Linked DNA regions of Homo sapiens. The protein of the gene in region 1 interacts with the protein of each later gene in a pairwise test. Each region holds a gene or a part of one and is shown on either strand. Other genes may lie near its edges.

The links.
Region 2: the proteins of OSGIN1 (region 1) and BTBD2 interact in binary tests that used the Homo sapiens proteins (3 or more experiments, as listed by UniProt).

What each region holds. Positions count from the first base shown.
Region 1 is NC_000016.10:83,956,165-83,963,531, reverse strand, and holds part of OSGIN1 (oxidative stress-induced growth inhibitor 1), read right to left. Parts: intron 5,893-7,367; 5' UTR 5,861-5,892; coding exon 5,794-5,860; intron 4,273-5,793; coding exon 4,136-4,272; intron 2,964-4,135; coding exon 2,772-2,963; intron 2,552-2,771; coding exon 2,460-2,551; intron 1-2,459. UniProt on the Homo sapiens protein: Monooxygenase catalytic activity. Involved in regulation of cytokinesis; promotes RHOA activity, probably acting locally at the midbody in late cytokinesis.
Region 2 is NC_000019.10:1,984,713-1,991,846, forward strand, and holds the end of BTBD2 (BTB/POZ domain-containing protein 2), read right to left. Parts: intron 6,111-7,134; coding exon 6,005-6,110; intron 5,659-6,004; exon of another isoform or gene 5,490-5,658; coding exon 5,292-5,489; exon of another isoform or gene 4,246-5,291; intron 3,783-4,245; exon of another isoform or gene 2,981-3,782; coding exon 2,788-2,980; intron 2,542-2,787; coding exon 2,454-2,541; intron 2,265-2,453; coding exon 2,118-2,264; intron 1,938-2,117; coding exon 1,776-1,937; 3' UTR 736-1,775; downstream 1-735.

The DNA.
Region 1 (7,367 bases):
AATGGAAAGAATGAATGCTCCAGGGCTGGCAGGGGCTGGGTAACCTTGGCAGTGCCATGAGGCAGGGGGTGTGTCTGCGGTGGTTTTGTGCTCTGACGTCTAAGCCCAAGGCCTGGCACATAATAAGCATTCGGTGAAGATTTGCTGGACTGGGGATGCTCACTCGCCTTTGGGAATATTGTGAGGCCATGTAAAAGGATGGTTTTGAACGCTGTGACTTCACCACATGAAACGCTTGGGATACAATGTGAAAATGCAAAATGAGCCTATAAAAGGCTGTGCTTACAAGCGAAATGTAAGTTTCTGGCTGCCTACTAACATGTAGCTACACAAACCTGGAAGTCTTCCTGCCAAACATGCAGAAGAGTCTTCGCATCAAAGAGATAGTGAGGCCTGGAGGGGGACGCCTGGAGTGCCTGCCGTTGGGGACACAGGCCTGGTCACAGCCCTGGGGGCGGAGGAAGCAGGGCTTCCCGAGAGGCAGACTGCACCCAGGTATCTGCGCTGGGGCAGCTTCTCATTGAGTGGATGCACCCCAGGAGGAGCAGGGACTAGAACTCCTTTATTCAGTGATTGAAACTGTGAGAGGCAAATCAATCTTGGGGCCCCCAAATCACTAAGTTAAAGGAAAAGTCAAGCAGGGAACTGCCTAGGGCAAAGCTGCCTCCCGTCCTACTCAAAGTCTTCCCTCTGCCCACTGAGATAAATGCACACCTGATTGCCTCCTTTGGAAAGGCTTATAAGAAACTCGAAAGAATGCAACCGTTTGTCTCTCACCTGTCTGAGACCTGGAAACACCCCTCCCTGCTGGAGTTGTCCCGCCTCTGGACGGAACCAATGTCCATCTTACATATAGTGATTGATGTCTCAAGTCTCCCTAACGTATACAGCCAGGCTGTGCCCCGACCACCATGTGTACATGTTATCAGGACCTCCTGAGGCTGTGTCATGGTTGTGCGTCTTCAACCTTGGCAATTAAACTTCCTAAATTAGCCTGGCGTGGTGGCTCACGCCTGTAATCCCAGCACTTTGGGAGGCCGAGGTGGGCGGATCACGAGATCAGGAGATCGAGACCATCCTGGCTAACACGGTGAAACCCCGTCTCTACTAAAAATACAAAAAATAATTAGCCGGGTGTGGTGGTGGGCACCTGTAGTCCCAGCTACTCGGGAGGCTGGGGCAGGAGAATGGCTTGAACCTGGGAGGCGGAGCTTGCAGTGAGCTGAGATCGCGCCACTGCACTCCAGCCTGGGCGACAGAGGGAGACTTCATTAAAAACAAACAACAAATAAACAAACAAAACTTCCTAAATTAACTGAGACCCATCTCAAATATTCAGGGTTCACAAACCTTTTCTCTAGGGTGGCCATGATGGGGCAGGAAGCCAGATGGGGAAAAAATACCCCAGGAGTGAAAGGGCGTGGAGAAGTGTGGGTTTGGGGTGAGCTGTTTTCCTTCTGCATTTCCAATAACCTGCATGACCTTAGGTGAGTTAATTTACCCAACTTGGGGGCTCATGGTTAAGGATGAAACTCACCTGTAGCAAAAGCATTAAAAAAAAAAAAAAGAAAAGAAAAAAGAAAGTCACCCTATTAGCTGACCCAGAAAGATTGTTCTAGGCCAGGCTCAGAATAGAGGAAAGGGCTGAAGGGAGACCACAAGGACTGGGGGACCTGTGCCAGAGGCACGGGGCAGGGCGTGGGGCTCAGGGGCCAGGTGTTACCCCCTCCTTAGAGGCTGGGGCACTATGGGGAGGCCCAGTTGGGGGCCATGTGACAGGGCGGTCTGCTGCTTGCACGGGACAGGGGGTCCTCGGGTGAGCCCAGCTCTGCTGCTCACCCCCACTCATGTGGGGTGGACAAGTCCTTTCCCTATCTGAGCCTCAGTTTCCCCCTCTGGAAGAAGAGGAAGACAGACCAGATGCACTCTGAAGCCCCTGTACCTCTGGCTCACGGGCTCACTGTGGGGGGCCTGTGAAATCCCCCAAATCACTAAGCTAAAGGGAAAAGTCAAGCTGAGAACTGCTGAGGGCCACCCTGCCTCCCATTCCATTCCAAGTCACCCCTCTGCTCCCTGAGATAGATGCGTATCTGATCGCCTCATTTGGAGAGGCTCATCAGAACCTCAAAAGAATGCAACTGTTTATCTCTCACCTACCTGCGACCTGGAAGCCCCCTCCCCACTTCCTGCCTTTGCTTCAAGCTGGCCCAGCTTTCCAGACCGAACCAATGTACTTCTTACAAATATTGATTGATGTCTCATGTCTCCCTAAAATGTATAAAACCAAGCTGTGCCGGATCACCTTGGGCACATGTCATTAGGACTTCCTGAGGCTGTCACGGGCGCGTCCTCAACCTTGGAAAAATAAACTTTCTAAATTAACTGAGACCTGTCTCAGATTTTCTGGGTTCACAGGCCCAACCTTCCGTGTCCCCCAAGGCGTTCCGGGGCGGCCTCACCTTCGCTTCTTCTGCATCCAGTCCTTGACCTCCAGGTCCGGGAGCCCCATCCACTGGCCTTGGCTCAGGATCACCATGGAGCCTTCGATGGACTGCAGGGAAAGGAACCCTTTGGTCCAGGCCTCTGCTCGCCTGAACCCATTTGGGGCTAGAGGGCATGGGAGGCCTTTGCTGGGGCTGGGTAGAGGGAGGAGGGAGAGGCAGGGTTGCGGGGTGGAGAATGAGGAAAGGGAGATGCCAGAGTCCCAGCCCCAAGTGGGGAGAACGAGGGAGAGAGCCCCCCACAAGCCATGCCCTCGCTGCCCCACTCACGTGCCAGGCTCCCCCGGGGAGGTTCCGGCCCAGAACCACGTGGGGGATGGCGTGCTCCTTCCGGTGCTTCCAGGTGAGGACCGACTTCATGTTTCCCCCAAAGTCTGTGTCTGGGCGTAGAAGGGCATCAAAGAGCAGGGCCACGGGGCTTTGGGATCGGCCTTCGAGGCCTTCGGACAGGTAGTCCAGGTCCTGGAGGGGGGCATAGGTCAGAGGGGCTGCTGGAGGAGGGCGGGGTCGTCTTCCCAGAGCCTGAGGCTGGGCAGGAACGTGGGGACTGGGGCCGGGCCATTTCCCTGGCACTGGAGGGTCTCAGAGAGATGCGCACCCTGGGGGTAGTTTGAAGCTCTCGTTTTGAGGTCTTTCTAGGAGGCCAAGGGCCCCAGAGTACAGACCAAATGCGCAAGCTTGGGTGAGACTGGAGCGATTGCCTGGTCCTACATCCCTACCCTAATATCAGTGTGGTCAGATCAGCTTGGGAGGTGCTGCCTCTTAACAGCAGATAACACAGACGGGCATATTAAAGGCTCTGACAAGTCCTGCAGCCATCATTTACCTGTTTAATTTTGCCAAACCCAGTGTGTCCCTGTTTTACTGGAGTGGGGACATTTTTCTCTCTATATTATACTGAGGAACTAGTATTCTATAGAGAGCACTTTGAAAAATGCTGATCTAGATCAAATGGTCAAGACCTATTTCCTCATCTCCAACTCAGGGGCGGGAAGGGAACAGGAGGATGTACACTGCCTGACGAGGGAGGTCGACAAGGGGAGGTCGTGGAGGAGCACAGTGGAAGACAAGGGGTACGGAGGGAGGATTTGCAAACCCTTGTGGGCAGGAGGTAGTGGGACTGAAATATCTGTGGTGGAGTTTCTCAACCTTGGCCGCACTGACATTTGAGCCAGATCATTCTTTGTAGCCAGAACAAAGTCATCCAAATGTCAGTGGGGCCAAGGTTGAGAAGCTCCACCACACATATTTCAGTCTCACCACCCTCGTTGTCCTGTGCAGTGCTGGATGTTTGCCAGCATCCCTGGCCTCCACCCTGCTAGATTTGGTAGTACCGTCACCCTGCCATGACAACCCAAATTGTCTCCAGACATTGCCAGGTGCCCCCCGAGGAGAAAAATCATCCCCTCCTTGAGAACAACCGGCCTAGGGCATAGTGAGCCCTAGATCGTGTGGCATTTGTGGGTCTCTGATTTCTCTTTCACGATCTCCGTGGCTGACTTTGTGGACTCTCGAATTCTTTGTTTAGTCTTGTTTCCAGCAAACACACACTTTTGTTTTTCCCTGGGAAAGCGGCGGTAGTTTTCCAAGGGCGGGTATGTACTACCCAGAGCTCTGGCCCCAGGCTGACCCACCTGGTCCAGGATGGAGACCCCCGGGGCCTCGGTGAGCTTCCTCTGCAGCAGGGGGTGTGGGTGGATGGCATCTGGCTTCGTGTAGGGTGTGTAGCCGGAGAGCAGGTAGGACAGGCAGATACCAGAGGGGCCGTTACCTGGGGAGAGAGGGTGGAGGTTAAAGGGGGTGGCCTTTTCAGGTGGGGGACACTACTGTGGAGGGCTTTGATCTAGATGCGGCGCATTCATTCATTTATCCTTCATTCATAAAAATAAATATTTATTAAGCCCTTAGCCTGTGCCAGACACTGTGCCTAATAATACTTTTAAAAAGAAGGAATGAACAACTGCTGAGAGCTTACTCTGTGCCAGGAATTGTACTGAGAGCTTTCACAACAGCCTCACAACAGCTTTAGCGAGGTAAGTGCCACTCTTTTCCTCCTTTTATACTTGAGGAAATGGGCACAGAGAGGTTAAGTTACTTGCCTGTGGTCACACGGCCGGAAGGTAGACGAGCCGGGATTAAAACCCAGACAGAGGGAATATCTGACGACGCGACTGAGATTCTGAGATTGCTAAGAACTAGGTCAGATGGATGAGTGAATGTAGCACAGATTGCTACGTGGCCTGGGGGCGAACTTGAGTGGTGGGTGCTTGTGGGCGCTCAGGGGTGCTGAGCCGCCTGTTGGGTCTGCTGCTTGCACGTCTGAAGAACTGCGCTGCCATCTGTGGCGCTTCCTGGGCGATTCACCAGGCACAGCCCTGTGATAGCGCTTCTCTTTTTATCTGTCCTTTCCCCTCTTCTTATCTCGTCTGATTCGGAATATTACTCATATGCAGGATACCAGGAAGAACCATATGAAATCACAGGCACCCATCTGCTTTTGCCTTACAGAAATGACCATCTCACGTGGCTTAATCGGACGCCTGCATACTGGGGGGTCATCTGTCCCCATTTGTGCAGACAGAGGACAGGAATCATAAGCCGCTACTGTGTGTCCTCTCATGTGGGCACCTAGCACAGTGCTGGGCACAGGGTAGTCATGGGATCAGTGTGGGCTCAGGACCAGGCCTCCCTGCGCCACGCCGGGTCGCCTCCAGCTGATGGGTGTGTTCTAGACCCCTGGGTTCTCGGAAGTGTGAAAGGGAATGATAGCTTATAAACTGCTAAGCCTAGCACTGGCCACATAGTAAACGCTCAATGGCTTAATTTAAAGACCACTGTAAAGAGGCCAGGCCTGGGCCAGGCATGGTGGTTCACACCTATAATCCCAGCACTTTGGGAGGCTGAGGCAGGCAGATCACTTGAGGTCAGGAGTTCGAGACCAGCCTGGCCGACATGGCGAAACCCCATCTCTACTAAAAATACAAAAGTTAGCTGGGCATGGTGGCATGCACCTGTAATCCCAGCTACTTGGTAGGCTGAAGCAGGAGAATCGCTTGAGCCCGGGAGGGAGAGGTTGCAGTGAACCAAGATTGCACTACTGCACTCCAGCCTGGGCGACAGAGTGAGACTTTGTCTCAAATAAATAAATAAATAAATAAATAAATAAATAAAAAATAAACCCCAAAAACGAAAAAAGACACCAGGCCTGGACTTGCCCAGCTCCTGCCCTCAGACCTGGGGGGTACCCGGAAGGCTCAGCGGAGCCCCTCCCTGGCTGGGGCCTGACACTCACCCACAATGATGACCGGGAGGGGCTCTGAGCTGCTGGCGCCGAGGTGGTCCTTTCTGGAGGAGCTCATGGCTGGTGGGGGGCTTGGGGCTGGCAGCGGACCTGGAGTGGGGGAGAGGGGAAGGAAGAGTCCATTCGGGTGAGGCCTGGGTGTCCACACAGCCACTTCACCTCCCAGCTAGGGTGGCCTCCTGTGGCCCTCAGGGTCTGGTCCGGGGTCCCCATGAGACATATCTGACGGGACTCCCTTCTTGCTCTCACACAGCCTCTGCTCCAAACAGGCTGTTTGCCCCACCCCTCCCCAGTCATGCAGAATGTGCCCTCCCCTCCTCGGGCCTGGTTGCCCCAGGCAGCCACTGTCCCTCCGAGCCTCACTCTACTCTCCCATCTCACTGGGGCAGTAACAGTCCCCGAAACTCATTATCTGTCTTCCCGAGAGGCCATTCCTGCCCAACCCAGGAACCAGCCCTGCCAGACCCTTCTGTGGGCCACAGTCCTCGAGTCCCAGTGTGGCCTGGTGGACTCGTCATCCAGCCCTGGCACGTTGCTTCCTATCCCATTCCCGGGCCTCTCTGGGTCTCAGTTTCCTCATCTGTAAAATGGAAGCAATGAGTCCCTACCTCCTAGGGTGGTTGAGGGACACAGTAGGATCACAGACGGGAAGCACCTGCCTGGAGTGAATCTGCCACAGGGAATGGGCCAGCGCTGTGGCCTGCCCCAGGAGCTGGGATGGACTTGGGGAAATGGAAGCAGTGGCCAGGTTTGGGGACGTGCTGGTGAACCTGCCATCTCTGGGGCAGCCGCGCCCTCTGCTGGCCGCAGGCCCAAATCGCTCAAAGGGACCCAAGTGCTGGTCCTAGAGCTGCCGGTTCCCAGAGGAGCATCAGACCTACCTTCTTCCCCACACCAGCTAGCAGCGGACACCAGCCTCACCCGAGGGCCACATGCTGCCATCCTGAGGACCACAAGGCAACACCCTTGTGGGCACAGGGATGATGAGCATTTGGCACTTACTGTGTACCGGGTATTTGACATGCTTTTTCTCATATCCGCCTCACGCTGACCCTGTGCAGCCCTGGCCATATTAATGTCCCATTTCACAGATGTGTAAACGGGGCTCAGAGAGGTCGCACAAACTTCTCAGTGTCACACAGCTGGCTTTGAAACCCAGGGCTCACTGGTGCCAAGACCCTGCCAGTGCCACCACCCACACCACTCGGCCTGTCCCTCGAGATCCAGGGCCCATCCAGGTGTCACACTCAAGTGGGCGGGCACAGGGCTTGGACCACCCAGAGTGGCCAGGGGTGGGGGCCCAGGGCCACCTGCCTCCAGAATTCTTCCAGAGAAAGTGGGAATCTGGATTTCTATGTGAATGATCTGAGTTGAAGAAGTGGGCAATGAATGAACGCAGAGTTTTGGAAGATGCTTAAAAGGCCAACCAAACACAGCTGAGACCAGTGTGTGGCCTCTGATGTGTGCAGGGTGACAGAAACACCTTCGTCCACCTCCAGGCAGGTCCCGAGGAGAGGGATGAGAAACTGCCACACAGATGGGCCACTGAGAGGACCTATGTGTCG
Region 2 (7,134 bases), on another chromosome or scaffold:
GGCTTTTTTTTTTTTAGACGGAGTCTTGCTTTCTCGCCCAGGCTGGAGTGCAATGGCACCATCTTGGCTCACTGCAACCTCCATCTCCCAGGTTCAAGCGATTCGCCTGCCTCAGCCTCCCAAGTAGCTGGGATTACAGGTGCCTGCCACCATACCTGGCTAATTTTTGTGTTTTTAGTAGAGATGGGGTTTCACCATGTCGGCCAGGTTGGTCCTGAACTCCTGACCTCAGGTGATCCACCCGCCCGGCCTCCCAAGGTGCTGTAATGACGTGTGAGCCACCACGCGGCCTTGCTGCCGGGTTTCTTGATGTCTTGCCCTGCACGTGTGCTCCTGAGGCAGCAGCCAACGGCTTGACTTCTCTGGCCACTGAGGCCACAACTGGGCACTCCCTGCTTTCTCTCCATCTCTCACATCCACGGTCCCCCAGCAGCCAGCAGGGCCTCCCCACGGGGAAATCGGCACACACGTCCATTGCATTTGGGTTTGGGGGGAGGTGTTGAGTTAGTTAGGGTCTTGCTCTTGCCCAGGGGGGAGGGCAGTGGTGCATCACTGCTCACTGCAGTCTCGACCTCCCGGGCTTCAGTGTGGCCTGTGGGTACTTAAGGAGGGTCTCGCAGCACTGGCGACCAGACCCGGGGTTCAGGGCCCCTCTCGGCGCACGACATCCCTCGCCCACTGCAGCCCGGATGACAGGGCAGAGAGTGAAGGGGAGCAAAGCAGTGTGCGCTCAAGGCAGGTGCATTTGTTTCTTTATTTAAAAAAATCATCTGGGGGCATGGTCTGAGGAGGACACCCCTCCCATGGCTTTGGGGAGGACGCAGGTTCCAGGAGTCACAGGGCAGAAACACGCGGGGTGGGTGGGGGCGTGGCCGGAGTGGGGAGGGGCTGTGCCCCCAGCACCTGGGGGTGGCTCCCACGGCACCAGGTGGGCTAGGGCAACAGTATGTACAGGCGAGCAGTGCTCCTGGACCCGGTCGGGGCCGGCTGGGGCCCCATTCTGCGGCAGGGGAGCTCTGGGGCACAGGGTCTGAGTCCCATCTTGGGCTGCAGGGACCGCGAGGGCCGTCCAGGGAGGCTGGACAGCGGGGGCCTTTATCTGGGCCCATCAGGTGGATGAGAACGGACACTGCAAACCGCTCACCACCTGGGCCAGGGCTAGGCCTATCCGGCAGGGGCCGTCCCCACACTGAATCCTGCGTGCGCAGAACTCAAGCCGGCATCCAGGCAGTGGGAACGCCCCGCAGGCTGGGCTTGGGTGGCCTCGGGCACGTGACAGGTGGGGCCCGTGTCCTGATAAACGGACAGGAACAAAAGGAACGCAAGGTCTGGGACCCACGGCTCTGGGAGCAGCGCCACCCAGGCTGGCTCCTAGCAGAGAAATGGGAATCGCAAATGCATTGCAATGTGCAGTGAAGAGACGCGAGGGACGCCCGCGGCGCACCGCCGGCAGACGACGTGGGCAGGCGCCCTGAGCTGCGGGTCCGTGGGCCCTGGCCCAGGCCGGCACAGCCCTGTCCCTAGTCCTGAGGGATTGTCTCCACAGGGCCTGGCCACTGGCCTGGCCACCTCCCCGGCTGCCCTGATCCAGCAGCCACACTCGTGGTGAACACAGGGCAACCCCGTCCTGATGCTGAGAAAGGTGGCATGGAGTGGACAGACGGCCTGGGGGACACTGGGCCTGGCACCGCGTGGTGGGGGGGCCCCAGCAGCAGATGATGGCCTGGGGCTGCGGCTATCCCCACGGAGGGAGGGCGGTGTCGGTGTCGGGCAGCCTAGGTGTAGAAGATGACCTCGGGGATCTGGCCGTCCTCCACGGATGTGCCATTGTTGTTCCCGGCCGCGTAGCAAAAGGTGAAGCAGGTCTTGGCGCCCGTGGTGGGCGACTCGTGTGTCACCTTGCGCAGGCCTTTGGTGCCGTAGTGGGAGTCTGGGCCCTGTAGGGAATAGGGGTACAGTGAGGTCAAGGACCACCAGGCTGGGATGCCCCAGGTGTGGACAGGGCAAGGCCCCGACTGGGCCAGGGTGGCTGCCTCTGGAGAGTGTGTGCTGTGCCCCGGTGGCTTCAGGATGGGCCAGAGACTCCCACGGAGGGACCCCTGTCCCCGGCGGCGCACCTTGAGCGTGGCACAGGCCGTGTAGTTGACGTTGGGCAGCACCTCCACCGGCTCCTTGAACATGACGCGGAAGGTGCTGGCTGAGCCGTCGCAGCTGAAGCCCGTGTCGTTCTGGCCCAAGACGGTGTTGCTATCGGTGTGAATAATCTGCGGGGAGGTGGGAAGTGGGAGGCTCAGGCCTGGGGAGGGCCAACGGGGACCCCTCGAGGCCCAGCCCACCTGCCCAGGGTGGGGGCAGCACAGGGACCAGGGCCGGGGGTTCAGCCAGGGTTCCATGGAGGTGGAGAGAGGACATGGGCCTGAGTGGGGCCTGGGGATGAGGCTTGGGGCTGGTACCTGGATGTTCACTTGGTAGTCGGTGGGCCCGTGGATGGATCCATACAGCCCAAATCCCACCACGAAGATGCGCTTGTTGACTGAGAACCTGCCGTGGCAGATGACAGGCAGCAGCGTGGATACCCAGGGATAGCCTAAGGTGAGCTGGGGCGAGCCCACCCCCATGCCCGGTCCCCTCCATCGTCCCTGAGTCCTCCACCCCCATGCCCGGCGGCCCCCCCGCCGTCTTCATCATCCCTGAGTTCTCCACCCCCATGCCCGGCCCCCCATCTCCGTCATCCCCGAGTCCTCCACCCCCATGTCCGGACCCCCCCGCCTGCACCCCAAGCCCCACCTGATGCGGTCACTGGTCCCGCTGTAGCCCCAGCGACTCTCCACCTGCTGGAAGCGGTTGATGCTGCACTCCTTCCCACGCAGGCAGCAGCGGGGCCGGTCAATGAACTCCACTCGTGGCTTGGGGTTGACGGTGAAGTGCAGGAAGAGGCTGACCACCTCGCGGTCCACCAGGATGCCCGACTGTGCGGGACCTGCAGCACAGGGAGGGTGTGGGGGAGGGCCGGGCTGCACCCCAGGATCCCGAGTGCCTGGGAGGACACGCTCCTTCCCCCTAAGATGTCTGCGTCGGACTTTCAAGGTGCAGGGACCTGGGCAGCCCCTCCCCGGGGGACTAGCCACCAGCCATGGCCCCTGCTGCCTGGGCTTTTAGGGAGAGGTCCCAGGGCACAGACCAGAGGCCGACAGATACGCTCACTCAGGGGCGATGCCTCAGGGTCTGACAGATGCACTCACTCAGGGGTGATGTCTCAGGGTCTGGCCCCACTGTAGGGACCACCCGTCACTTCACTGTGGGTGGGGGCGGGGGGCTCCACTGCCTGTTCTCTCAGGGCCATTGGCTGGGAGGGGTCACTGTGGCTCCCTGCTAGGCCTGTACCCCCCAGGCTGCAGCCCTGGCTTCTAGAAGCAGTCTGGGGGTTCCTCTCCACGGTGGGCCCTAGGCAGACACCTTCTCAAGCGCTTACACCCCCAGGGGTGATGGCTAGCGGACCCCAGGCAGACTCCAAGAGCCAGGCTCTTAATCCCGGTGCAGAGATGTCACAGGCAGAGGGACTGTGCATGGGATGTGAAGGGGCTCTGGGTAGGGAGGGGAGGCCAGGAGGGGCAGAATTGGGGGTCCACCATCCACCCCCAGGAGTGCCAGGACACAGCACCCTCTGCTCTAATGAGAGCAGCCCTGCCTGCCTGAGACCTAATCACTCATCAACCAAGGTGGGCTCAACTCCGCATCGCTCAGCTGCAAGCCAGCCCAGTGCAGACACAGTTTAATAACTGGTGAGAAACAGACCATTATGGGTTAAGTGAATCAGGAAGACTGAGTATCAAAACTCAATAAACAATGTTAACAATTTTTTTTTTTTTTGAGACGGAGTTTCGCTCTTGTCCCCCAGGCTAGAGTGCAGGACGGAGTTTCGCTCTTGTCCCCCAGGCTAGAGTGCAGTGGCGTAATCTCGGCTCACCGCAACATCCGTCTCCAGGGTTCAAGCAATTCTCCTGCCTCAGCCTCCAGCATAGCTGGGTTTACAGGCATGCGCCACCATGCCCAGCTAATCTTGTATTTTTAGTAGAGACGGGGTTTCACCCTGTTGGTCAGGCTGGTCTCAAACTCCTGACCTCAAGTGATTCCCCCCATCTTGGGCCTCCCAAAGTGCTGGGATTACAGGAGTGAGTGACCCAGCCTGGCCAACAATTGTATATATTTTTTTATTTTAAATGGAGTTTCACTCTTGTTGCCCAGGCTGGAGTGCAGTGGCGCGATCTCGGCTCATCACAACCTCCACCTCCTGGGTTCAAGTGATTCTCCTGCCTCAGCCTCCCGGGTAGCTGGGATTACAGGCATGAGCCACCACACCCAGCTGATCAACAGTTGTATTTTTAAGAAGTATGTATCTAGCCAGGCTCGGTGGCCCATGTCCATAATCCCAGCACTTTGTGAGGCCGAGATGGGAGGATGGCTGGAGCCCAGTTCATGACCAGCCCAGGTGACATAGCAAGACCCTGTCCCCACAAAAAAATACAAATATAAGCCTTGTGTGGTGGTGGCACCTGTGATCCCAGCTACTCCGGAGTCTGAAGCAGGAGGATCACTTGAGCCCAGGAGGTCGAGGCTGCAGTGAGCTGTGATTGTACCACCGCACTCAGCCTGGGCGACAGAGACCCTCTTGCTAAATCTGGCGACCTTCAGCTAAGCAAGAGCGGGGGCCGCGTGGACCTGGGGAAGGCCAGACGGCGAGTGTGCACCAGCCCCAGGGCTCTGTCCCAGCCCCTTCTGGAAAGTTCCAGGCCTGTTTTGCTCCAGAGCTGGATGGCGTCAGGCAGTGAGCAGCCACGAGGGCAGGAGGCATCGTTAGCGCTGCCCCTTCACGTCACCCTGGAACCCAGGCCCTGCAGCAGGGGACCCCAAGGCCCACTCGGGCGCATGACAGCCACCCCGGCCATGTCAGAGCCCTCCTGAGCTCGTCACAGACACTGGTACCTGCACCAGCAGGTAGCACAAGGGCGCGAGACGGGGACTCCCTTCCCTCCTGGGAAGATGCCACCAAAACAGCTGGACAGACACGAGAGGCGGGGTCTGGCAGTGTGCACGGTGGGGACAGAGCCGGGCCGGGGCTAACAGATGGCCCTGTGGACGCGTCCTCACAAGCCAGGTTTCTTCCTATCTGTATATGCCAGGCATCTGCCAGGCTTTCCGCAGTGAACTCGGGGGCACTATCCTCGGTACCCAGATGCCCACCTGTGTGCCACTCCCCTCCCAAACCAGCCCCTGAGCCCGAGCTCTGTTACCTGCAGCGAACTCCTCGATGGTCATGAGCGGGAAGCGAATGAGGCCCAGGGCCTTGCCCAGAACCTTCCGCCTGTTCTCTGGCGTCACCTGCAGCTGCTGCCGCTGACACTCGGCCTCGGACCAGCGGACAACGGCATTGAACAGCCGCACCTCACGGATGCCCAGTGTGTCGCGCTCCAGGACAGCCACCAGCGTGTCTGTGGGGTGGAGGAAGGGGCTGCGTGAACACGACACCCACATGCCCACCCTGCAGGAGGCAGTGAGACTAACGTGAGGACCAGCAGTTAAAGCCGGGCTGGCAACTATGGCCCGTGGCCCAAATCTGGCCCTGTGAGTGTGTTTATAAATAAAGCTTTATCAACACAAGACCACGCCCCTTCATTTTCCTCGGCTGTGGTTGTTTTTAAGCCACAAGGACAGACTTGAGTAGCTTTGACAAAAGCTGTTCAACAGCAAAGTCAAAGCCATGGACCATCGGAGGACGAGATGGTCACCATCAGCTGGGATGGTGGGCTCTGGCCTGTGGCCTCCTGGCCAAGGCCCCGGACTCCCGTGGGGCTGTGCTAGGACCCAAACTCCTGACCTGCTGCAAGTGGTGAGGCCCCAGCTCACCTGTGCAACTCCCCCAGGCCCAAAGCTCCCACTGTCAATCCCCGGACCCTCCCGCCGAGGCCCCGCTGGGATTCCCACACCTGGGCTCCTGGGCCCTTACCCAGGTCAATGTCGGTGAAGCCCTCCGCGGTGATGGCGTCTGCAGTGTTTTTGTCGATGTTCTCCAGGCACAGGCTGGCCAGCTGCGGTTCATCGAAGAGTCGCGCCTGGCAAGAGACATCGACGGGGGGCGCGGTGGGGACATCAGCACCCAGCCCTCGGCAGATCCCCAGTGCGGGGCCGGTTCAAATGCAGCCCTGACCACACGGGCCTTCCTGAGCGTGGCCAGGAGCCACCAGGGTCTCAGCCACCAGGCCGGCCCTGTTGTGGGCCCAGAGACTCCCCTGTGACCGCTGACTGGGGCGGGAGAGTTGGGGAGTTCCCTCTCAGGACCTCAGAGGCCAAGGAAGGAAGAAAAAGATGCTCAGGTCCCTGTCGGCAGGGCCTGCTGCTTTAGGCAAAAGGGGCGTTGCAGCTGCACTCGGGGGGCAGCAGGGCCCAGGACCCCGAGTGGCAGGCAGAGGTGAGGTGGCCGGGGCCGACCGGTGAAGCTTCCCGACCACAACATGCCCTTGGCCACTTGTGGTGGGAGGGGCCGTGTCCCCGGCAGCTCCATCCCAAGACAAACAGCAGACATGACTTCTGACAGTCAGGTGACAGAGCTGGAGGACGCCTGTGCTCTTAGGGAAACAGAGGCTTAGTTAGTGGAAGGTGCTGGAAGGGCCTATGCCAGCAGGGACCCGGGCAGGCCTTTCTGCGGGCATCCTCCCGAGGACACCTCTCAAGTGGGTTCGTAGTGGTTTTAGGGGCAGGGAGGCTGAGGCAGCCACAAGATGAAGCCCGGGGAGTGAGCTCCAGCCTCCTCTCAGCTCAGGCAGAGGCCTCTCCAGCAAGGCGACCAGATGACCCGGACAAGAAACCCCTCCCTGTGGGAGTCCGGGATGCCCTGCATCTGACCTGCCAGGATGGAGGGGGAGAAGGTTCTGGGTCCTTTCCAGGATGCCGGACCCCCAAAGCCCATTGGAGGACCCAGTGCCGCTGTCCCCTCTGGCCACCCTCCACCCCCGACCAGGAGCTCACGGCTCCCAAGCGGCCGTCCACCCGTACTGGCCCCACGTCCTCTCAGCCTCCCTGGCCTGCACGACCTCCCCAGCCCCCGCCCTTTGGGCTGCACAGAGCCCAACTGGGGTC